Homo sapiens: one gene and its partners. The protein of the gene in region 2 interacts with the protein of the main gene of each other region in a biochemical or structural test. Each region holds a gene or a part of one and is shown on either strand. Other genes may lie near its edges. The genes, in order: USP12, RRM2 and RRM1.

Region 1 (8,024 bases), on a different chromosome or scaffold from region 2:
TCCCGTTATTTCACACTTATTAAGTATAATATTAAATATCAGGTAGGCAGGTACTCCGTGCCAGGCCCTGAAGTCTGAAACTACTTCAAAGGCAAAATAAACACTATGTGATACTGAAAATGTATTATTTCATAGACAAATTAAAAACAGGTATTTCAAGAGGTACCCTTGAAAATGTACTCACTGCAATCTAAACATAATCACTCATTTGGTTCAGGCTATAATACTAACTTATGAAAAACAAGTTTTACTAATTTTCACATGTAAGCACAACACTAGTGATCTAAAATAAGACACAGCTGAAGAGAATTGTTTTTAACAGTTACTTAACCCAATTAAGGTATTGCAGATTTGCCCAGGTACGTTATTTTGACAAATGAAAAAATTATGTACACTTCAGTACTTATAGAATAAAATTTCAACTCATCCTAAATGTTTTCACAGCTGCTGATTCTGAGAAGTGTTCTGTTTAAGTCCAGCCCATCTTCTCTCCACCATTCCACACACACACAGCCACATCATCCCTGCTTCACCCGGCATACCAGGAGGAGGCAGGAAGGACTTTGGAAAACTTTTATACTGAATGCAGAACTTGGTACTCCAGATCAAACTGCAGAAGTAAATGATAATCCTTCCCCTTCAAGGCCCTCACAATTGAGTAAGAGTTCAAAGAAAAATTTACTGCACAGTAAGTATGATAAGTGCTACTGAGATTACAAAAATGCCATGAAACTGTATGAAGGGGATGGAGGGTCGGGTTGGACAGGGGTAGGATTATTCAAGTAAGGCTCCCTGCTTAAGAGACAGGCACACACACTCGCCAGACAAGAAGGATACGGGGTGTGGCAGGGAGGAGCGTTCCAAGCCTAGCAAAACAGCACCTACAAAGCCAAAGAGGTATCTTTGCTTTTCAATTTTGTGATTCTCAGAGGACAAATGGCAATTTTCTTTAAAGAATAAGACTGCAAATTACTTTGAGATATTCAGCACTATTTGGGGGTACATTCGAATGTATTCAAATATGAATACAGACACACCCAATTTTAATAGTACCTTTGGAACGATCTCATTTGGCCAGGCATTTTCTGTATTTGCCAACAATACACACGCCCCACATGTAATTAATGTATCTGGATGGAAGCCCTAGAAAGAGCTTCTGATTTGACATCCTTGGGATCAGAATCCCACTTACTAAGTGTGTGACCCTGGCAAATCCCTGTGTCTCACTGTCCTAATCTGATTACAGCATACATTTATTGTTTACCTGAATACTGTTTGTGTCCATGAGCAAGAATGTAAACACCAAGAAAACAGGGGCTGCCCTGACCAATACTGCATCCCCAGTACTCAGCGTCGCCTCTAGCACTTAGTGGCTGCTAAGTGTATACTTGATATACAGTACTTGAGTGAATGAACAGTCGGTAAAGAGTATCACACCACTCCTGAAATCTAGTCTTTGACAATGAACTATGACCCATACAATGTGTGTAGCTCAGCCATGTGGCAAAATTGTCACTGTAAAAGACCTAATTATCGCATTCCTTTTGAAATTGACTAAGATAATAATTGGCGTATCTAAAAATAATTAGCCCAAACAATTCTCCAAAATCATTTTAATATAGTCCATTTAATACAAATGCTTTCCTAAAATGTAAACTGTGAGAAAGAACAATCATCCAGTTGGGAAATGGAGTCTTCAATGATTCATCCTTCAATATGATTTCTTTAATACTGTCGATTTTATGTCCACCTGATTTCAGTCATTTTTTGTACTGTTCCTCAGCGTGTAGTAGAGAATCTGCTTTTTAAGGCATCTTTCAGATCTGATTCACCACTCCTTAAAGAAAAATATATACAATGTACCACCCTTAGATGGAAAATTTCTTGGGGATCTCCTATATGAAATCAGTTGCATAAATAGGGCCAGTGAGGCATGAAACACAAGATTTCAGAAGTCTCTAATAACAACCACTAGGCCCACGTTGCAAAGAACAACTTTTTTCGGTGATGACTCATAAATTATGATCCCTACATATAAGCTCATGAGGAACTAATGAAACGAATTTGTCTCATCATGTGGAAAACTGTGGTCCTTCTGGCCACGCACAAAACACCAAGTTTTAAACGCGCCCACGTTTTGCTTAATTCGGGACTTCCAGCGGGCATTAGCACTTTTCCCTTACAGTCTATTTAAACGCCCTAGGAAAACAAATACCATCGCCTTGGCAGGCGGTCCCCGCACAGACAGACCTAGCTCCAGCCACATACAGATGTGTCTGGTGGGCTGAAGTAAACAAATGACAGGAAAGCTAATGCTGCTTTTCAAGATTAACGTGCATTCCCAGAGACAAGACTGCCACCTGGACACACGGCTGGAAACGGGAGAGCTCGTGCCTCTCAGAGGAGAAAATGGAGAGAATTTCAACAGTACTTATTTAAAGTTTCCACCTTCACACACGCCCCTTTCCCCCAGCGCGGGGTCGGGGACTCGGCCCAGCCAGCGGCGCGAGGAAATCTGCACTTGACTTCCGTCCTCTCCCAGGCGGGAATGAGCGCTGCCCGCCCCGGCCGAGACCCTTCCTTCCTGCCCGCCGACCCCCACCCCTCCCGGGGACCCCTCCCGCTCGGCGCGCGACCAGAAGGAAATGGAGCCCGCGCGGCTCCGCGCCCCCTCCCCGACGACCCCGGCCCGGGGCCGCGCTCTGGCTCGCGCGCGCCCACCCCTCACCCCGGCACAGGCCGGGCGCGCCTCGGCCCTCGTCCCCGCGTCCCGAGCGGACCCCAGCAGTTCAGCCGGGGACTCCCGGAGGCCGGTGCCCGCCCGACGCCGCGTCTGGCACGGTCGCCCACTCACCGCTACCCTCGCGCCGCCCTGGCCCACCAGGCGGCGCCCCCTCCCCAGCCGCCTGGGCCGCTCACCCCCGCGCTCCCCGCCTGCGCGCCGTCCAACCGCCCCCGCCCGGGCCGCCCGGGCCGCCCAGCCCGCCCGCCCGCCCCGGCGCTAGGCCCCGCGAGCGGCCACTGGGAGAGGCGGGTCCAGCGCCGCCCGCCCGCCCGAGAGGTCCCGGCAGCCCCGGCCGCCCGCTCGCCGCCACCTACCATGGTACAGATGGAGGCGAATTTGGAGACTGTCATTAGGATTTCCATCCGGCCAGCGCCATCTTCCACCCAATCACAGCGGCGGCGGCGGGCGGGGGAGGAGGGGAGCCGGGCCGCCCGCTCGCACCGCAGCCCGCGGGCGGACCCCGAGCCGCCGCGGACCCAACCACCGAGCCCGCTGGGCCGCCGCTGCCGTCGTCGCCGCCGGCGCTCAGGCACTCCCGGCCTCGGGCCCCAGCCCCCGCCTGCCGGCCGCCGGCCCGCCCCCGGCTCCGCCCCGGCGCAGGGCGCAGCCGCTGCCTCCGGGCCCGCGCCTGCACGCGAAGCCGCCCTCCGCCCACCCCGCCCAGCGCACAGGGGAGCGGGCTCCGCCGAGGCCCTAATGCCCGGCCTGCCAGGCAGCGGCGCGGCCAGGCGGCGCAGCCCCGCCCACCCCTCGGCAACCCCTCCGCGGCCCTTGTGCGCGAGCCGGGGAACTCCGGTCCGTCCCCACCCCGCGCGCGGCAGAGGGCAGGACCGAAGGCGGGCGCCACCTCCTGCCCGCGTCCCTGCGGTCCTAGAGCCGGGGACCCAGAGACCCCCGCGTAGGAAGGGGTGCGGCGGGGAGGCGCGGGGGTGGCGGCGGCGATCTGGGAGAACCCTGGAGGGGACCAGCTGCGACACCCACCGCGGGCGAGGGGACGGCGAGCCCCCGCTGCCTAAACAGAAAACGGAGGCGATGATCTGGGTAACTACGGGCGGAGTGGGAGGAAACCTGCTCTGCACAGTTAAGATAACCCGGGTATGCGTCCCAAGCACTTGGTTTGTTTCTTTTTACGTATATTGGATGAATCACCGGAGTCAAACACAACTTAGAAAAAGACAAAATAATTAAACAAAAATGAAGAGGCAAAGAACAAATTACACATGTTTAACTCTTTGAATTAAGAAGAAAGATAAGTAATGGGGGAAGGAGAGGAGCGAAACCTGTTGGCCTGTTGGCGATAAATTTATAATAGGCTTCTAAATATCTGCACATTGAGCTGCAAAATAGGGAGGATCTCAAGCCAGCAGTGATGATGATATTACCAGAGACAGGAAGCCCGCAAGCAAGAAAAATGCCCTGTGAGAAATCCTTAGGCAGTGCTGGCTACTGGCATGGGTAGTTCCTCTTTCTCCTTTTATAAAATTCATATTTGCACCCTGTTCTTCATGCCTGGCAGCTCAGCTTTATTTTTTCCTATTTGAGAAAGTAGTTCAAGTGAGTAGAATAACTTCATAAATTATTATGTTAGAAAGCTTGTGATATTTTCTGATTGAACTCGTGATGGGGTACTTTTCTGGGTTCCCCTAATTCAGTGGGGTTGAGGATCTGAATTCAGGCAGAGCTGTAAAATCAGAAATGCCTCACCTCAAGGGTTCAAAGCACTCAAAAACAAAAAGCATTCAAACAAAATTTAAGTGAAAAATAGACTTCTGGTACATGAATACTGTTTCCATAGTGATTCCATTATAAGCTTGCTTGGGGGGGGAATGCAGATTGAATATAGCCAAGCCCCATGGTAGCCGGACTGGATCTCCAAGCGCCTGCCTCCATGGAAGCCAAGAGCCCTGATACCCCAGCCAGGGGCTTTCCTCTCTATACTTGCAAGCATCACCCACCTGAATTCTTTCTTGCTCTTTTCTACCCCCTGTTTGGACAAGGGTTTCTACATCTTAGACCTCTAGGGCCTACCTGGGCCTTGTCCGAGTGTCACCATGCCCATCTGTGTGCCCGTCCTGATAAATAGCTGTGGTCATCCTGTCCTTCCCACTTGCTGTTCTATTCCAGCAAACAGGTCTGATGTGCCAGAATTTTAGACCTGCCTCCATCCCGCTAACCACCCATATGCCTCCTTGTCCATTAATCCGAACATGTCACAGGAACAAAAGCCACTGGCTTTACATATAAGTTTATATAAGAACAAGGCCTTTCTAAAATGAATTTCTAGGCTGAGTATGGTGGCTCACACCTGTAATTCCAGCACTTTGGGAGGCCGAGGCAGGTGGATCACTTGAGGTCAGGAGTTGGAGACCAGCCTGGCCAACGTGGTGAAATCCCGTCTCTACTAAAATACAAAAATTAGCCAGGCGTAGCAGTGTACGCCTGTAATCCCAGCTACTCAGGAGGCTGAGGCATAAGAATAGATTGGATCCTGGAGGTGGAGATTGCAGTGAACTGGGATTGTGCCATTGCACCCCAGCCTGGGTGACAGAGTGAGACTCTCTCAAAAATAAATAAATAAATAAATTTCTAGGCTGGGCACAGTGGATCAGGCCTGTAATCCCAGCACTTTGGGAGGCTGAGGCAGGAGGATGGCTTCCAACTTCCTTGAGACCAGGGAGTTCAAGACCAGCCTGGGCAACATAGTGAGACCTTGTCTCTACTAAAAATAAAAATAAATACGTGGTGCATGGTGGCGCATACCTATAGTCCCAGCTACTTGTGAGGCGAAGTAAGAGGATAACTTAAGCCCGAGATATCCAGGTTGCAGTGAGCCATGATTGAACCACTGCACTGTAGCCTGAGCGACAGACTGAAACAGTATCTCAAAAATACAGCACAGTGGCTCTCGCCTGTTGTAATCCCAGCACTTTGGGAGGCCAAGGCGGGCGGATCACTTGAGGTCAGGAGTTTGAGACCAACCTGGCCAACATGGAGAAAGCCCATCTCTACTAAAACTACAAAAATTAGTTGGGCATGGTGGCGAGCACCTGTAATCCAAGCTACTAGGGAGGCTGAGGCAGGAGAGTCGCATGAACCTGGGAAAAACCAGTGAGCCGAGATCATGCTACTGCACTCCAGCTTGGGCGACAGAGTAAGATTCCGTCTCAAAAATTAAATTAAATTAAATTTTAAAAAGTAAAATGGATTTCTGATAGAATTATCTGGAGTCATGTCTAGTTGATGTTGGAGCCATCTAAATTCACAGGTAAAGTCATGAAACCTAATCACAGAGCCTCACAATGCCTTGTCTCCACAGCCTATGGTCGATTGGAGAGACACAAACATAAAAGAGACATTCTTGAATCTATGTGCTAGGTGTTGTACTGAGTGTTCTTTACCATATGTAATGCAGTTGGAGAATAAGTTTGGCTGAAACTCCACACTTTTGCACCCTGAGCTTGGAAAGGGTAATCTGGCTTTAGAACACAGCTTTACACAGCTGTGTAATCAGCTTTACAAAGAGCTTCCCTGTGCCTAGCAAAAGATGAGTTTGTGTACAACTGACTCCTTTTCGGCCTTCTTGAATATGCAAACTACAAAATATGCCCAGATGCCTCAGGGACCAGGCAAGTAAATGAACTATGTCCAACCTTAATCCATTTAGTCAGCACAGCATTTTATAATGTTTTCATTTGCATACTGTTACACAATCCTACACTCTCCAGTTCCTTACAGTCTGCCTCAAATTTTCCTTTACTCATTCTGTTCAACAGTTTAACACAAGTCACTTTATTATATAGTTCTGCTACCTCTTTTCTCCCTGAAGGCATGTGGGTTTATACCAGCTCACATAAATGATTCGTGAAGCTTTGCTTGTGATGGGTTGGGAAAGAAAGTGATGGGGAGTGGTCCAAGAAGGGGTGTAAACATTTTATCTAATCCTTGCAACAACCTAATGAAGCAGGTGTTACGATTATCCCCACGTTTAGATAAGGAAACCAAGGCACAGAGATAACTTTTCCAGGGTTGCACAACTAACTAGTAAGCAATGGAACCAAGGTTTGAACCTAGCTCCAGGAGCCACACCTGTGTCCACTCCACTACACTAGCTTTGTAAAAGTATTTTATTTTGATTCTGACAGGATGAGGTTGAGAGGCACGACTCCTTTCGGACTTGCATGAAGGTTTAAGCTACAAAAAAAAAATACTCAAATCGATATTTCTTTGTTTCACTTTCCTCATCTGGAAAATAAGGGTAATAATTATGTTACAACGATAAAACATGTTTCAAATAGTGCCTGGCGCTCAACACAAAATGGAAAGTTTAGAATGGACATTCAAAGTCAACATTTTAAAAGTTGGGGGGCCGTGCGCAGTGGCTCATGCCTGTAATCCCAGCACTTTGGGAGGCCGAGGCAGGCAGATCACGAGGTCAGGACATCAAGACCATCCTGGCTAACCCGGTGAAACCCCTTCTCTACTAAAAAATACAAAAAATTAGCCGGGCATGGTGGCGGGCGCCTGTAGTCCCAGCTACTCGGGAGGCTGAGGCAGGAGAATGGCGTGAACCTGGATGGCAGAGCTTGCAGTGAGCCAAGGTCGCGCCACTGCACTCCAGCCTGGGCAACCGAGCGAGACTCCGTCTCAAAAAAAAAAAAATTTAAAAAAAAAAAAAGTTGGGGTGGGCAAATACAGCCCTCGGGCTGCCAGCTTGCTCCTCCAGATTTAATGAGCCTCTGCTATGTGCCAGCCACCTGCTTAGTACTTCAGATACATATTCCAATGTAACCCTTACGATGACCTTACAGATCCATCATTTCATACTTATTTTACACACAGGGGAATATGACATTCATCATTGCACTAACCAGCACATACAGGGCCAGGATCCACACAAAGGCTCTGACTCTAAAACCTGTGGTCTCTCCGCTTCTTTACCCAACCTCTTAATAGTTGAAGGAATCAGTCGTCTTAGTGGCATTCATTAATATCACCCAGTCATCAAGCAGTAGATGTCAATCAAAACAGTAAATTTTTTATTGGCTTGAATCAACAAATCAGCGACTTTTCAGGCCTTTCCTTTCTTTTCTTTTTCTTTTTTTCTTTTCTTTCTTTTTTTTTTTGAGACGGATTAATTTTGGGATTACAGGCATGAGCCACCACACCCGGCTAATTTTGTATTTTTAGTAGAGACAGGGTTTCACCATGTTGGCCAGGCTGGTCTCGAACAGTGCTGACC
Region 2 (8,281 bases):
AGGTTGGAATGCAGTGGCGTGATCACGGCTCACTGCTGCTTCAACCTCCTGGGCTCAAGCAATACTCCTGCCTCAGCCTCCTAAACAGCTGGGACCAGAGATGCGTGCCACCACAATCAGCTACTTTTTTATTTTTCACAGAGACAAGGTCTATGTTGCCTAGGCTGGTGTTGAACTTCTGGGCTCAAGCCATCCTCCCACCTCAGCCTCCCAAAGTGCTAGGATTACAGGTGTGAGCCACCATGCCGGCCAGTTGTCATTTTAAAGTGCTAATATTTGCAACATGATGGAGATTACATCTCCTGTAACTATTTATGACTAAAAGTTTAAATGTCAGTTTAATTCTTATTTATTTTAGTTTTAGAGACAGGGGTCTTGCTGTGTTGCCCAGGCTGGTTTCAAATACCTGGTCTCAAGCAATTCTCCTTCCTCAGCCTCTGGAGTAGCTGGGAGTATAAGGGTGTGCCACTGTGCCTGGCTAAATGTCTATTTTAAATGTGTGTAAAGTGGCACATAACTGTTCAACATCATTTTAGAGGTTATCTGAGCACGAAGAAAATCATTAATCCCAAAGGCTCTGCACTGTGCTGGCTGCCTCATCCTCACCATCTCCTGAAAATGGCCTCTCAGTGGCTGAAGCTCTCCAATGCGAATGTTCTAGACACAAATGATGTGGTGACACTCACATCAGCATCAAACAGCTCCATCTGGTTGTCCACCCTGCTTCCTGCTTAACCATTTCCTGCTGACTTCTGAGTGAGTGACACATAAACTAACTACAAAGTTGAACTGGGCTGCTCCTGAGACTTGTGGTTGTGGTGCTGCTGTGCTGTGCTACATTAAGAATGTTGGGCTGGGCGCAAGGGCTCATGCCTGTCATCCCAGCACTTTGGGAGGCCGAGGTAGAAGGATAGCTTGAGCCCAGGAGTTTGAGCCCAGCCTGGGCAATATCGTGAGACCTCATCTATATATATATATATATAAATATACGTAATTGGCAGTTCATATTAAAACAAAGTTTTTGAGAGTCTGGAATTCTGGAGTTAGTCAGACCTGGGTTCAAATCCTAGCTATATTATCACGTATGAAGTCTTCTTGCCAATAACTTTTAGCCTTAGGCTAATAACGATCCCCCGCCGGACTTTTTTTTTTTTTTTTGAGACGGAATTTCATTCTTGTTGCCCAGGTTGGAGTGCAATGGTGTGATCTCGGCTCACTGAAACCTCTGCCTCCTGGGTTCAAATGATTCTCCTGCCTCAGCCTCCCAAGTAGCGGGAACCCAAGTAGCGGGAATTACAGGCGCCTGCTGCCACGTCTGGCTAATTTTTGTATTTTTAGTAGAGATGGGGTTTCCCTATATTGACCAGGCTGCTCTCAAACTCCTGACCTCAGGTGATCTGCCTGCCTCACCCTCCCAAAGTGCTGGGATTACAGGCGTGAACCTCCAAGCAGGGCCTAATAAAGCCTTTTGACCTAACTTCCAGTGTAGAGTACAGGGGTCAGGAAAACAAGTTCATTGACACTGTGAATAAACAATTAGGCAAATGTAGAATGTGGGACATTCTACAAGAAAACTGGCCTGTACTTCAAAGTCAATGTCGTGGGGAAAAGAAGTGGAGGAGCTTTACTAAGAGTCTAAAGCAACATAATAAACGCAATGCATGTGATTAATTAGATACTGCACAAAAAAATAAATCCAAAAAACTATGAGACATTTTTGAAACAATTGGAAAAACAGGAATATGGACTGGATATTAGGTTATATTAGAGAATTATTGTTAGTTTTCCTAGGGATAAATGTGGTATTGTGGTGATATTAACAGAGTGTCCTAATTTTTAGGAGCTGAAACGTTTAGGGGTGATGGGTTATGATATCTATCACTCACTTTCAAATGATCCATAAAAAAGCATAAGCCTCATACACCCACAGAGGGGGTGTCTGCCACATTTGCCATGAAGCAAATATGGCAAAATGGAAACAGCTGTTGAATCCTAGCTGGTGGGTGAACACTAGGAATCCTTCCATTATTCTGTATGTTGAAAACATTCATAGTAAAAAGCTAGGCTAAAAACGTTCTGCTGTGCAGTTGTGCTGTGCGACCTTGGGCAGTTTCCTTGCCTCCCAGGCCTTCATTTCATCACCTATGAAAAGGGTTAAAAATACCAACCCCGGTGGGGCGGTGGCTCACGCCTGTAATCTGAGCATTTTGGGAGGCCAAGGCGGGTGGATGGCTTGAGCCCAGGGGTTCAAGACCAGCCCGGGTAACATACCGAGAACCCATCTCTACAAAAAATTAAAAAATTAGCCTGGCGTAGTGGTGCCTGCCTTGAGTCCCAGCTACTCGGGAGGCTGAGGTGGGAGGATCGCTTGAGCTCGGATAGTTGAGGCTGCAGTGAGCTATCATGGAGCCACCAGACTGGGCAACAGAGCAAGACCCTGTCTCAAAACAAAAAACAAAAAACTCAAACAGCCTCACATGATCCAGGCGCCCAGAGGCTGTGGGTGCTGCAGCCTTAATTATTATTATGACCACCTTCGGCACGGCGTCTGGTACACAGTGAGTGCTGAGCTCCCCGAGCCGCGGTTTCTCCACCCTAATGGTGAACAGCCTTTTGGAAGTCGCGCTAACCTTGGCCTGAGACCTGCAAACTTGCCCAGGCTGGGGCGTGTGAACCGGCGAGCGCGCAGCGGAAACGGGGCGGGGCACCTGAGGCTGGGAATGCAGAGGAGCCTTCCGGGGGGCGGGGCGGGGCCTCCCGTGCAGACCAATGGTGGAGTAGATGCAGATGTCAAAACGCGCGCTCAAGTGGCTTCCGCCAGGAATCCCGACGCTTAGGGAGGCGGAGGGAGGATCGCTTGAGACCAGCCTGGGCAAACAAGCGAGACCCTCGTCTGTTTACTTAAATAAAACCAAAAAAACGAGCACCGAGGGAAAAAGGAGTGAATCCCGGGGCTAGCAGCAGCCTGCGGCGGGCGCTCTCCCGGGAGTGGCTGCACCGCCCGACCTCCCCGGAGGCGGAACCGCCCGCATTGCCGCGTGGCCCTGGGCGCCGCCACCTCCTCCGCAGCGGGGCAAAGTTGCCGGACCTGGGGGCAGGAGGGCCACGCCGAGATGACTCAGGTTTAGCGCGGGAGGGGAGGATGGCGACTTCACCCGGCCTTTAACAACACGTACGCATCTTTCGGCGTCTTCTACAATGGCTATGTTAATTACGTGGCCAGGAACTAAACTATCAATGAAGCCACCTCTGACTACTTCAGTTACAGTGAGTTTAACAGGAGCAAAAAAGCACGTGGCGCCCTAGGGCAACCGAAACGAGGGTTTTAGACGCTGATTATGGGAAATTGAAATCTGAGTTGAGTATGAGATGACACCAATAAATTATAATTTTGTTAGATAATAGCTTTATCAGCCATAAAGTAATCAATAAAAATACCAGTTTCCTGGAGATGGATGCTTTAGTGTGTTTGGGGTGAAAATGGCGATGAATGGCGAGTTGCTTTAAACAAATCATGGTACACCAAAGTTTTAGTTGTGGCTTTGTGTAAGGAATGTGATGGGCACTTATTCCTGCAACACGAGAATACTATGATTTACAAGTCCGTAGTACTTTTAAGAAATGAGAGAAACAGACCTAGGTGGGGAGGGTACCTGTCCCACCCCACCCTCTTTAAAGTATCTTATCTAGAAAAGGCTTTGTGAAAAAAAAAGTCCCGGGTCTCTCTCAATAACAGCCCTGAGCGCAGCTGTTGAAGCTTTCTCAGGTTAATGATTTCTTTCTTGGATCTTAAAGTTTCTTTCTCTTCCTTTATTTTTGGCATTTTGCCCGTTGCAGGGCCTGGCAAATCAGAAAGCCACATAGAAAATTAAATGAAAGCTATTGCTAAGTTCCAGTCTCTACACCAGTGGAGTTTTCAAACTCCTCTTCAGCATATTTGACGCCCAATGAGTAGTACATTAATTCCTAGTCCTAAAATCATTCTGTGAACTTTCTCCCAGGAATTTTTGCTCAGTTTGCAATTAAAACAACTTTTTTTCTTCTCTTTTTAATGGCAGAGGCGGGGTCTCACTATGTTGCCCAGGATGGTCTCCAGCTCCTGGCCTCAAACAATCCTCCTGCCTTGGCCTCCCAAAGTGCTGGGATTACAGGCGTGAGCCACCGCGCCCAGCCACAGTTTGCAATTCTTAAGGCAAGGGTGACAATAGGGGTCAGGGGTCTGACAGGAGACAGGATTTCTGTGGAAAACTGCACCAAGGGCCTTCTCGCCATGTCCCGTAGTTTGAAGGTTTACAAAGGACTGCACATTTTACATGAGTCATCTCAACGAACGCTCTCCTCACCGCATTAACAGTCCACGCGGTTACGAGTCCCATTTTACTCACGGGGACACCGAATCTGTAAGAAGCCTGGTCGCTTGTCCCAGCAAAACGAGCCACGGGGCTCAGCGGCCCTAACTTTTAGGCTGTAGGGTCCTCGCCGACCACCCCGCCAAAATGTCAGGCCTCGGGGCCCTTGCACCCCCACCGCAGGGACACGGATCGAAAGGGTCGCAGCAACGCCTCCCCCGCACCCAGGAGCGTTTTCCAGGCCTTTGCACCAACCTCGTTGGCTAAGCCCCCTGCCCGGCGGCGGCCCGGCTGGGAGGAGGTGCTTTCGGGAGGCGGGGCCGCGGCCCGGGGATCCTCTCGCGCCCGCGGGCTCCAATCGCTGCTCCTCACGCAATCCTAAACGGTTCCCGGGCGAACCGGGGCCCGCGCGCGCCAAGGCCGCCGAGACCCTCAGGGGCTGCGGCCCTGGTCCCGCGGGACCTGTGGGGGCCTGGGCGGCGGCGCCCCCGACCCAGCCAGCGGACGGGCCGGGGGGGGAACCGGGAGGTCCCGGGGGGCGTCCACGGGGGTGTCCCCGGGGGTCTCCGGAAGGCGCCGGCGGAGGCTCCCGCGCTGCGCTTGAAAATCGCGCGCGGCCCCGCGGCCAGCCTGGGTAGGGGCAAGGCGCAGCCAATGGGAAGGGTCGGAGGCATGGCACAGCCAATGGGAAGGGCCGGGGCACCAAAGCCAATGGGAAGGGCCGGGAGCGCGCGGCGCGGGAGATTTAAAGGCTGCTGGAGTGAGGGGTCGCCCGTGCACCCTGTCCCAGCCGTCCTGTCCTGGCTGCTCGCTCTGCTTCGCTGCGCCTCCACTATGCTCTCCCTCCGTGTCCCGCTCGCGCCCATCACGGACCCGCAGCAGCTGCAGCTCTCGCCGCTGAAGGGGCTCAGCTTGGTCGACAAGGAGAACACGGTGAGCCCGCGGGGAGGGCGCTGCGGGCAGGGGAGGGAGGCAGGGAAAGCGAAGCCGCTCCTCACTCACACGCGTCTCCCCGCAGCCGCCGGCCCTGAGCGGGACCCGCGTCCTGGCCAGCAAGACCGCGAGGAGGATCTTCCAGGAGCCCACGGAGCCGGTGAGTGGCGGGCGTGGGGCAGAGGGGCCAGGGACGGCCTTGGGCGTCTTGGCGCCAAAGCCGCATTGTTTCCTCAGCTGTTCACACTCCCGCCCCGGCTCCTTTCCCGCCTAGGCGGCCCCTCCCCAGGGCTGCCTCCCGCGCCCCTCGGCCCATTTCCCGGTTCGGGCGTGCGCTCCTCTGCTGCGACCCACGGAGTGCGACGGGACAGCCACGTTTTCACATCGGGCCCCGTGAAATTGCCGCCAATGGAAAGGACTTGGTCCAGAAAAACGTTAGTTTCATATGGTTCGCCCGGTACTTAAATGTTTTATTTTCTCCCCCAACAGAAAACTAAAGCAGCTGCCCCCGGCGTGGAGGATGAGCCGCTGCTGAGAGAAAACCCCCGCCGCTTTGTCATCTTCCCCATCGAGTACCATGATATCTGGCAGATGTATAAGAAGGCAGAGGCTTCCTTTTGGACCGCCGAGGAGGTAATCGGAGGACCCCAGAAGACCCCTGCAGGGGTGACCGTCACGCCTCAGACATAAATGCACTTGGAGGTTCCCGTTGGCAAGGGGGGCTAACTGTGGGGCATAGTAAGTGGTGCCAGCATACTTAAAGTTTGAGTGCTCAGTGTGAGTCCTGTAGGCTTTACTCTCTTCCTTTTATGCTAAAATTGTGACTTCCGAACCTCAGGTGGACCTCTCCAAGGACATTCAGCACTGGGAATCCCTGAAACCCGAGGAGAGATATTTTATATCCCATGTTCTGGCTTTCTTTGCAGCAAGCGATGGCATAGTAAATGAAAACTTGGTGAGTTTCCAAAACATCTTTCATTCATTTGACGTTGACGATCTGAGGTCGAACTAGTTCGCTTTCCTCGTCTTGTATGTTTTTCCATGCTGAGTGCATCTGTGTGTGTAAGCTGGGTTTTATATTACATGGCATTTCCTGTTTTGTAACACTTTGCAGTTCTTTCTTATGGTATTTTCCCGACTCTAGAGAAGCTGAGACAATATTAAGTGGTAGCAATGTGATGACTCTTTGTGGCCACCACATCTGCCCCCTCTTTTTTTTTTTTTTTTTGAGACAGAGTCTCACTCTGGCCCAGGCTGGAGTGCAGTGGTGTGATCTTGGCTCACTGCAACCTCCGCCTCCTGGGTTCAAGCGATTCCCCAACCTCAGCCTCATGAGTACCTGGGATTACAGACGTGCGCCACCATGCCTAGCTAATATCTGTATTTTTAGTAGAGACAGGGTTTTACCATGTTGGCCAGGCTGGTCTCGAACTGCTGACCTCAGGTGATCCACCCACCTTGGCCTCCCAAAGTGTTGGGATTACAGGCGTGAGCCACCACGCCCGGCTCTGCTCCCTCCTTTTTGTGGCTTTGCTGTTTTAATAATAATTTGGTTGTATCTCTTATTGCGAATGGATCTTTCTTGACATAAATTAATTAGGAAATCGAGCGCTCACAAATCCTATTTTATATGTATCTATTTCCTGATATGTAAGTTGAGCATATGACATAAAATATCAAAGAATTGTGACAAATTGGATGAAATATATATAGAAATAAACCTTATAATGGTACAAAGAGTGCGATGCTGCCAGTATCCGTTGACAGTTGCTGCTGTTGGTTTTTTCTCAAGCTTAACTTTGATGTGTTTTGCCACTAGGTGGAGCGATTTAGCCAAGAAGTTCAGATTACAGAAGCCCGCTGTTTCTATGGCTTCCAAATTGCCATGGAAAACATACATTCTGAAATGTATAGTCTTCTTATTGACACTTACATAAAAGATCCCAAAGAAAGGTGAGTATTCAAGTGGTATGCCAAGATTTTTAGGACTCACTAATTGTTGATTTATTACACATTTTTAGTTCACCTAGGGATAAAAATGACTCCAGAATGACTAAGACAGTCATAGGCATTCCCAGCACCCGTGGTCATGTCTGCTCTTAGCAAGGGGCCTAAATGCACTTTATTATTCACTTAGAGTTGTGAAGGTACTCCTTTTAAAGTTGGATGTCTACCAATGTAAAACCTTCTTTTGAAAAAATTCCTAGATGTTGGGTAAGACAAACTAAAACCTATGTCTGACCATCTTTGCTCATTTGGTAAAGTTGTTGAGAAGCTAGAATGTGGGGCTGCAGTGGGATGGACGGGGAGGACTTGCCTCCTAAGAAGCCTGCAGTATAGTATAGGCAAATAAGACTTAGTAGGAGTTACATAAGGCAGAGGCAGCAGTGAACCCTGAGACTGATTTAGGCATGCAGGAGTTTGGCTGAATAAAGGTAGCTTAAGGTCTGTTTTGTTTTGGAGATTGGAGGTGGGGGGATTAGAAATGGGCTGCTGGAGTAGTCTAGATACAAAGGTCAGCTTTAGGGTGGCGCGCGGTGGTTCTCGCCTGTAATCCCAGCACTTTGGGAGGCTGAAGCGGGCGGACAATGAGGTCAGGAGATCGAGACCATCCTGGCTAACACGGTGAAACCCCGTCTCTACTAAAAATAAAAAAAGTGGTGGCGGGCGCCTGTAGTCCCAGCTGCTTGGGAGGCTGAGACAGGAGAATGGCGTGAACCCGGGAGGCGGAGCTTGCGCTCCAGCCTGGGTGACAGAGCAAGACTCCGTCTCAAAAAGCAAAACCAAGCAAAAAAAACAAAGGTCAGCTTTGGGGACCAGAACCTTGTATGGAGTGGAAGTGGTGAAGCTGCAACCTAAAGTAGCCGTTGTAGACTTTGAAGTACATGAAGAGGAAAAGTGGTAACTTGAAAGGACTGAGGAAACATTGGGAGTAAAGAGATTTGAACATGTTTATAGGTGGAAATTGAGAAAAGAAGGCAAAGATTAGGGGTACGATC
Region 3 (8,363 bases), on a different chromosome or scaffold from region 2:
TTCCTAGCACAAAGAGGTGCTGAATAAATGCTTTATGAATAACTGAATGAATGGCCTCTACTGCCTATACTTTACCTATCAGAGTATTTATCATATTTTATCATATTACTTCTTTATTTGTCTATCTTTCTCAATTGATTGTAGGATCTTTGGAAGCTGGAACCATGTCTGCCTACTCATCACTGCAATCCCGGTGAACAGCACGGTATCCACAGAGTTGTAAAATAATATTAGCAGGCTGTGAATGGAATAGGAAGGAAGGAAGGAAGGAAGGAGGAAGGGACGGAGGGAGGGGGAGAGGGAGGGGAGGGAGGGAGGAGGGCAGGAAAGAAGGGAGGGAGAAAGGAAGGAAGGAAGCAAGGAGGGAGGGAAGGAAGGGAGGGAGGAAGAAAGGGAGGAAGGAAGGGAGGGAGGGAGGCAGGGATAGGGAAAGAATCTGGAATAAAAGAAAGATTAGAGTGCAAATGGATGCTTTCAAAGACATTATTTCGTAAACTTTTGTATCATTTTATGTGTATCCACATATATACACATGTCTGTAAAATGTTTTGTTTTTTACTGTGAGTTACAATCCAAAGTTTTGAAAATACTACACTAAATTCCAAAACAGTTTACAACTCAGTTAGCTACTTTGTCATTTACTGCAATGGTTCTCAATGTTTATTTTTTTAACCATAATCTCCTTGAGGAATGATACTCTCCCATTAGGAAAAATAGCTCAAGATAGCAGATGAAAAAAACTCATCTACTATTCTCTTCTATCTAATAATTTTCATATGGATTGTTCCTAAATCCCTAACAATTTTAAGTTCTTTGAAGATAGAGCTGCCTTCTCCATTACTGCCCTCACAGTGTTTAGCAAGACATTAGCATATTCAGTAGGTACTTCAAAGTCAACTTCCAGTTGCCCTTGTTATTAAAAATAACAAAAACTAGCCAGGCGTGGTGGCACACATCTGTAGTCCCAGCTACTGAGGAGGCTGAGGCAGGAGAATCTCTTGAACCCAGGAGGCAGACACTGCAGTGAGCTGAGATCACACCACTGCACTCCAGCCTGGATGACAGAGCAAGACCCCATCTCAAAGAAAATTAACAAAAACTGTAGGAGTTAGTCTGCTATTCCACTGACATGCCAAAAATAAGGGGGTACAAAAAAAGTCCAGAAAACCAAAAACCCTATGCATATTAAAAAACATTAAAATATAGAAACATAGAAATATAAAAAAAAAAAGAAACAAACAAATCTAAGTACATGTTGTATATTAAGTCTTGCTGAATGCTACAATGGCAGAATCTACAGCATGAACCATCTGGATCAAATTGTGCTCTATGAAGGAATGAGAAAATAAGCTCTGCTTTTTAGAGCTAGTTATAGCTAGCACTTTGTGGTTTTTTTTTTTTTTTTTTTTTTTGAGACAGAGTGTCACTCTGTCGCCTAGACTGGAGTGCAATGGCACGATTTCAGCAACCTCTGCCTCCCAGGCTCAAGCGATTCTCCTGCCTCAGCCTCCTGAGTAGCTGGGATTACAGGTGCAAACCACTACCGTCCGGCTAACTTTTGTGTTTTTAGTAGAGACGGGGTTCCACCATGTTGGCCCAGCTGGTCTCAAACTCCACACCTCAAATGATCCACCCACCTCAGCCTCCCAAAGTGCTGGGATTACAGGCGTGAGCCACCATGCCCTGCCACGCCAGGCCAAGGTAGCACTTTTTAAACGAAAGTATTTAGAAGTAGACTCTAAAAGTTCAAAATTCAACACAGGGTTGAATTTTACCCATTCTGGTCATCTAAGTCCATACATTTTCAATTCATCTTTGTTACTGACTTATCATAGACCATCCTAAACATCTCTCCCATATCTAAAGATTTAAAAAATAGATGCTCAAGCCAGGTGCGGTGGCTCCCAGCACTGTAATCCAAGCACTTTGGGAGGCTGAAGTGGGAAGAATGCTTGAGCCCAGGAGTTCAAGACAAGCCTGGGCAACATAGCGAGACTCCTTCTCTAAAAAAATACAAATAAATAATAATGTAAAAAAATAAAAATACAAAAATAGATGCTCAGCTCTCACTCTTATGAATGGATCAATAAAAGTGCACTATGTTATTTTGCTCTTTGGTCAGCTAAAATGTGAGCTAGGAAAATTCACAGAATGATGTTCTCAAGATACCAAAAACAAGAAAGGCCACTACTGTCCACCTTTCCAACTCTTGTCTGTAGTTAAACCAATCTGGACATTGGCTGTAGTTAAACCAAATCAACTACCTGCTTATTCACAGCATTCATCGTGTCCTACATTTTGATACAACTATTTTCATTCATTCTTTAAGAATCTGTTCATGTCAGGTCCTGTGCTAAACGTGAACAGAAAAGTCTCCATCTTGCTTGTATTCCCAGCACTTTGGGAAGCCAAGGAAGGGAGGATGGTTTGAGGCCAGGAATTCAAGGCCAGACTGGGAAACACAGCAAGACTCCTTTACTACCAGAAATTTTTAAAAATTAGCCACTCATGGTGGTGCATGCCTATAGTCCCAGCTACTTGAGAGGCTGAGGCAAGAGCATCGCTTGAGCCCAGGACTTCAAGGTTACAGTAAGCTATGATTACACCACTGCATTCCATCCTGGGTGACAGAGCAAGACTCTGTCTCAAACAAGTCTCCATCTTTGAAATGTTCACAGCCTAGAGGACAAAATAGAAACAACCAGTCGATTAACCAGTATTTACTAAGTGCCTACAATTTTGAAATCATTGTATTGCTTTAACAAAGGCAAGTAGGTTCAACTCAAAACTTGTTCATACGTATCTCATGCGGTTGTTAAAAGTATGTTGCTCTTGTTTTTCCAACCCGATGAAGCCTGTTCCCAAGGCAGGGACTGTCTCCTCCTACAATCTCACAAAGCCAAGCAAAGGGCTGGGCACAAAGCGGGCACTTGGCAAGTCTAATGAAAAAGAACTGTTGAGAAAGAATACGAGTTCCTGACTCTTCCCAGTCCCCATCTTGTCAGAAGATGTCTCAGCCACCCTTCTCTGATTCAGCATCTCTTCCCATGAAGGGAAAGGAACTCGAGGGTGCTGTCTGTCTGGGATCTGTTTTTTCCACGCCACACTCCTATCCTCACCCCACAAAAGAGATCAGTAAACTGACAAGTGCCTACGGAGGGTAGAGAGGCCCCCTCCTTCTTTCCTAGCTGCCCCCCGACCCTGTGCCTAAGACAGCTCACCAACCCCACGGTTTTCAAATCAAACCGTATTGTCACCTATGGGTGACTTTGGGTCAGTCGGCGACACCTCGCTCTGAGCGTCAGTTTCCTCATCTGTAATAAGCTAATCATCTCTCAGAGGCTTGCAGGGAGGAATAAAATAGTGCCTGGCAAGTGCTCGGCGTACGCAGTCACTACTCGATACGGGGTAAGTGTTATCCTTTTGAAAGGCGGCAGGATGACAAAGCCGAGGGGGCGCAGCCTGAAGGCCCGAAGGAGGTTCGGGGCAGGCTGACTGAAGACAGAAGGCCGAGCGGGCTGACAGGGCGGAAGGCCGCGGCGGGAAATGCGGGAAAGGCGGGAAGCAGCGAAGGCGGGCGGGCGGTCTGGGCATCAGCTCCGGCGGCGGCAGCCCGCATCCCCTCACCTTCCTTCTCGCCCACCTCGTCCCCCCCTCACCTCGCTTGATCACATGCATCGCAGCTAGTGGCTGAGGCTCTGAAGGATCCAAGACTGGACTGCGGCTCTAAAGCGCCGGCGGGATCGAGAAGGTGACAGAGTGGGAAGGGTTAGGTTCCAGGCGCTGCTCAGGGGAAAGAACTGGAGTTGGAGCCAGACAGCACTTTCTTCAGAGCAGAGGCGCAACAATCCAAATCCCCTTCCCGCGCCCGCCACCCGTGACGCACAAAGGGGCGCGACGGGGTTCGAATGACGTTACTCGACGCTGCGGCCCACGCCCGGGGTAGGCTTCACAGACTGACAGGCGACGTGTAGCCGCCATGTTGAGTCTGGGCAAGACCCAGAAGACTACGCCTCTCCCATGGGCCCCATTGGATATGGACATGCCCGGCGGAAATGCTGCTCTCCTGCTACCATGTTTTGTGTGGGCAAGCCGAGTTCGGGACCCTCGGGGCCCTGGCGTAGCACCTAGAGCCCGCTGGGTCAGGCGCCGCCCTCTCACCTGCGCGTCTCCGCCGGAGGAAAGGCGGTTAATTTATTTTTGAAATAACAAAACCTAACCGGCGGGAACGTTTTTCTTGCTCTGACATTTATTATAATAATACTAACACTGCCGTCCGCTGTGGGCTCCAGCCCAGGCTCCACAGCCGTGGGCAGCTTGGAGCCCCAGGGCTTTTAGATCGGCCAGAGGACTGACACTCTGGAACTGGAAGAAAACCGCGCAAGGCCGATGGCGTTTGGATTTTATCCTGACGCAAATCAGAGCCCTGAGAGAATTTTAAGCAGGGCAGGGTCAGTACCCATTTGCTTTTAGGGTTCTTCAGTGGATGGTGGCAGAGACAGGGTATTTGCCTTGTGGAGGTAGGATGGACTTGGTGACTTAGAGTGGAGAATAAGAATAGATGAGAACCGTAATATGTAAGGCTGGTGTAGAAGCTTCTGATTTGGGCTACCCAAAGCGATCTTTATGAAATTTCATCTGTGGCATCTTTTCCCTAAAGCCTTTTCGTTGGTTTCTCACTGCCCTCCAGAAGCTGCCCAGGCTCCCTGTGAAGTAATTTCAAAAATCATGGAAAGTCGTAAGTGAGCCTGTAATTGCAGCATTTTGGGAGGCTAAGGCGGGAGCATCATGTGAGGCCAGGTGTTGAGATAAGCCTGGGCAACATAGTGAGACCCCATTTCTACAAAAAATAGAAAAAGTAGGCCAGCGCGGTGCTTCACTCCTGTAATCCCAGCACTATGGGAGGCCAAGGCGGGCAGATCACGAGGTCAGGAGTTCGAGACCAGCCTAACCAACGTGGTGAAACCCCCCCGCTGCTAAAAATACAAAAAGTAGCCAGGCATGGTAGCACGCGCCTGTAATCCCAGCTACTCAGGAGGCTGAGGCAGAAGAATCGCTTGAACGCTGGAGGCAGAGGTTGCAGTGAGCCAAGATCGCGCCATTGCACCCTAGCCTAGGCAAGAGAGTGAGACGCCGTCTCAAAAAAAACAAAAAAAAAGAAAGAAAAATTAAATAGATATGTTTTTTAAAAGTCGTAAGTGAAGTTATAGGATAGATAGGGTCAAGTTTACCCAGACATAGGGTTTCCCAATTTAGCAAATAAAAATGTGTCCCAGATACTGCATGAGAGAAAATTATACTTTAAAAACTGTTTATCTGAAATTCACATTTAACTGGTCATCCTGCATTTATCTGGTAACCCTGCCCACAGAGCTTCTGGGCATGTGCATTCAAGTTTCATTTTCCCTGGGCAAAGGAAAGATTGTCTCTTTATCCCATCATGCCACAGCACAGAGAACACAATGAGAGTCAAAGCCAGCAGTGGTTAAAATCTCCTACATGCTTTATTGGACTTCAAAGAATTTTATGAAATAACACAGAAAACCCCATTTGAGGGTGTCCAGGGAGTACAAGGCAGTCTGCAGCCTAGCACCCTCCTAAGACCAGCCCCAGGTATACCCACCCCAGGCCCAAAATAGGATCCCAGGATAAAGGTATGGCAGGGAGTGGGGCAGAGGAAAAATACCTTTACAGCCATAGCAAAAACAGGTAAGGGAGAGAGTTGTCTAGAGGGTGGGAAGGGTGGGGGAAAGTGGTCACACAGCCGCCTTCACCTATACCATCTTCCTTAGCCACCCCTTCCCCAAACTGGTTGTGTCCTTTTTGAGCCTCTGGCCAAGGCTACAAAGTAACATGAAAATGGGATCTAACAAGGGGAATATGCAGCGTAGGCACTTGGGAAATTCAGATTACTTTTTTTCCTTTTAACCTGTTTGTCTTTTGGTTCAAAAAATGACAGCATCCTTGCCCAACAACTCCAGGGCTCCATAAGAGCCCTGTATCATGGCTGTGGCTCTCCTGGCCAGGGGAGCCACTTGTCCTGAGCCCTAGGAGTATTGATGCTTGGGGAGCTTTGGGGCAGCACCTCTTAGAGACAAATCCTCCTGCAGTGTGGGGGAGCAGGGGTAAGAGGGAGGCAGGTGTGGGTGGGAGTAGAGAGAAAAAGTGACTGCCTTATAACCTACAGTTCTGGCATCCACTCATGCTCCAATGAACAGATGCCTCTCCCAACCCATTCCCAAGCCTGGCCTCTCTTTAAAAGTCTCTGGTGGGTTGTTCTCTGAGAATTGGTTTCACTCCCCCATGGATCCCTGGAGGCCTGAGTGAGATTAGGATGAGGCTCCTTCTGACCCACATCAATACCAAAGAACAAACTTCAAAGATTAGGCCCTAGCCCCAGTCTGGAGCAAACAGAACCACTGTGAGTGGGGTGGAACAGATCTGAGGCACACATGTCAGAAGCTACTCGTCCTATCTTCCCTGCAACTGCTAGGGGAAGTTGGGGAGTGGTGGGAGGGAGGAGCCCGAAAGCAAGAGACAGAAACAAGAAACCAAACCTCAAAACTGGGACAGCAGAGACAGAAGCTGAACCCCAGAGGTGGAGCTGGGAGCTGAGGGAACAGCAACTAAGACATGCACTGAAGTGGAGAGGGAGTGACAGCAGCAGCCCATGGTTGGGACGGAGGCAGGGCAGGCAGGCCATGGTGGTCAGTTAATAAATAATAATGAAGGACCCAAGGATGAGGGGGCAGGTATGTACAGTGCCCAGACCCCTGGACCAGCCCTTCCCATGCCCCACTCTTGGGGCCAGTTATCTTGAAGGAAGGGAGGGAAGGAGAGACAGAACACCCAGGGAAGGACAAGCTGTCCCTTTACTGCCACCCCATCCTGCCTACTTCTTAAGAGGCTTCTTAAAGATTTTGAGGGGAAACTTCTTCCGGCCTGGGCTGGAGTCTGTTTCCTCGCCAATAGAGCCATTATCCTCCTCAGCCACAGCCTTCTTGCCAGCCAGGTGGGGAATGCGTGTGTTTCGGCTGGCTTGCAGGGCTCGGCTGTCCCCAACTGGAGATGGTGTGTCTGGGTCTGGGGAGCTGGGGCTGTGAGAACGGGAAGAATCCAAATGTGGAGAGCCACCAGGTGGGGCTGAGGGGCTCAGCTCCATCAGGCTGTGGGCCTTGTCCAGCCCATGGTTCAGCGCCAGTAATGCCTTCTTGGCCAGGGCAGGGCTGTCAGGCAGTTTCTCCACCAGAGACCCTGGGTGGACCCCCTCGATCAGCCGGTGGCTGCCATTGGAAGTCATGGCATTGAGAGCCTCGTCTGCAGCACGGCTCATCTGAGGAGGTTTGGGGGCCACACGCTGGCGGTCACTCATGTGGAGGGAGGACTCCGAATCGGAATGGGTCAAATCCCTGCAAGACATGGGGCAGAGAGGAAGAAAGGGACATATATTGGATGAGGTGATAGGGGAAAGGCGAAGAGGAGAGAGGGACAACACGAGAAGACAAGGACAGGGTAGGAAAATGGGGATAGAGCGGCAGGAGAGAGAAATAGGATGAACAGGCAGGTGGGAAGGAGAGAGGAAAGAGGAATAGACAGAAGTTGAGCAGCCATAAGTATAGGATAAGAGAGGAGGCAGGAGGAGGGAATGAGGATAGATTGGAAAAGAGACAGGAAAAGGAGAGTAGAATTGTAGAGGAAGAAAAGCAAAAGGATAAGCAGGTAGAAAGAAGGGCCAAGAGAGAAAGACAAGAAAGGGAAAAGTGATAGGGAGGGAAGAAACAGATAAGAAACAAAAACAAATGTCATCATACCATCATCTGTCTGGCAAATGGTTTTCCAATACCTGGGCCCCACCAGTGGTGAATGCTCTGGCTCTGAACTGGTGCAGCCATAGGCTTAAATTCCACAGGCGGCATCCTCAATAAAATCTCTGCCTTCTCATAGCTGGCTGTATTTCCTGGGACTCAAGCTAACACAGAACCTACAGCCTGCTCCGAGTCACCATTTTCCATGCCTTCCTTCCCCACTTACTCCTGTCACACCTTAGGATATTATCCAGTCTGGGCCAGGCCCCAAGGAACAGGGCACATGCAGTCAGTGGACCTGACCCAGGCTGGAGATGAGAAGGTTAGAACAGCCTTGCAAATAATCCTTCACCCACCCCAAAAGGCCAGGATGCTGCCTCTTCTAACCATCTCATAGGATTCAAAGGAGGTCATAGATAGGTATTGCAGAGTTCAAACCAAAGTCTGTGGTGCGGCAGGAAGGGTGGGGTCTCTTTCAGAACTCTGCTGACGGAGAATGTAGGGAGGCATAGAAAGACAGGATGTTGGCCTTTAAAGAGCAGTGGTTCAGAAGAGGTC

The links.
Region 1: of the proteins of RRM2 (region 2) and USP12, one has a biochemical effect on the other in vitro, tested with the Homo sapiens proteins (one study listed by BioGRID).
Region 3: the proteins of RRM2 (region 2) and RRM1 form a complex in vitro, tested with the Homo sapiens proteins (3 studies listed by BioGRID and IntAct).

Annotation. Positions count from the first base shown.
Region 1 is NC_000013.11:27,168,493-27,176,516, forward strand, and holds the start of USP12 (ubiquitin carboxyl-terminal hydrolase 12), read right to left. Parts: upstream 3,320-8,024; 5' UTR 3,148-3,319; coding exon 3,100-3,147; intron 644-3,099; exon of another isoform or gene 445-643; intron 1-444. UniProt on the Homo sapiens protein: Deubiquitinating enzyme that plays various roles in the regulation of the immune response and inflammation.
Region 2 is NC_000002.12:10,117,616-10,125,896, forward strand, and holds the start of RRM2 (ribonucleoside-diphosphate reductase subunit M2), read left to right. Parts: upstream 1-5,183; coding exon 5,184-5,282; intron 5,283-5,367; coding exon 5,368-5,442; intron 5,443-5,771; coding exon 5,772-5,915; intron 5,916-6,120; coding exon 6,121-6,237; intron 6,238-7,101; coding exon 7,102-7,235; intron 7,236-8,281. UniProt on the Homo sapiens protein: Provides the precursors necessary for DNA synthesis. Catalyzes the biosynthesis of deoxyribonucleotides from the corresponding ribonucleotides. Inhibits Wnt signaling.
Region 3 is NC_000011.10:4,090,328-4,098,690, reverse strand, and holds the start of RRM1 (ribonucleoside-diphosphate reductase large subunit), read right to left. Parts: upstream 3,893-8,363; 5' UTR 3,679-3,892; coding exon 3,660-3,678; intron 1-3,659. Other genes in the region: STIM1 (stromal interaction molecule 1 isoform 1 precursor), read right to left, coding at 6,893-7,409. UniProt on the Homo sapiens protein: Provides the precursors necessary for DNA synthesis. Catalyzes the biosynthesis of deoxyribonucleotides from the corresponding ribonucleotides.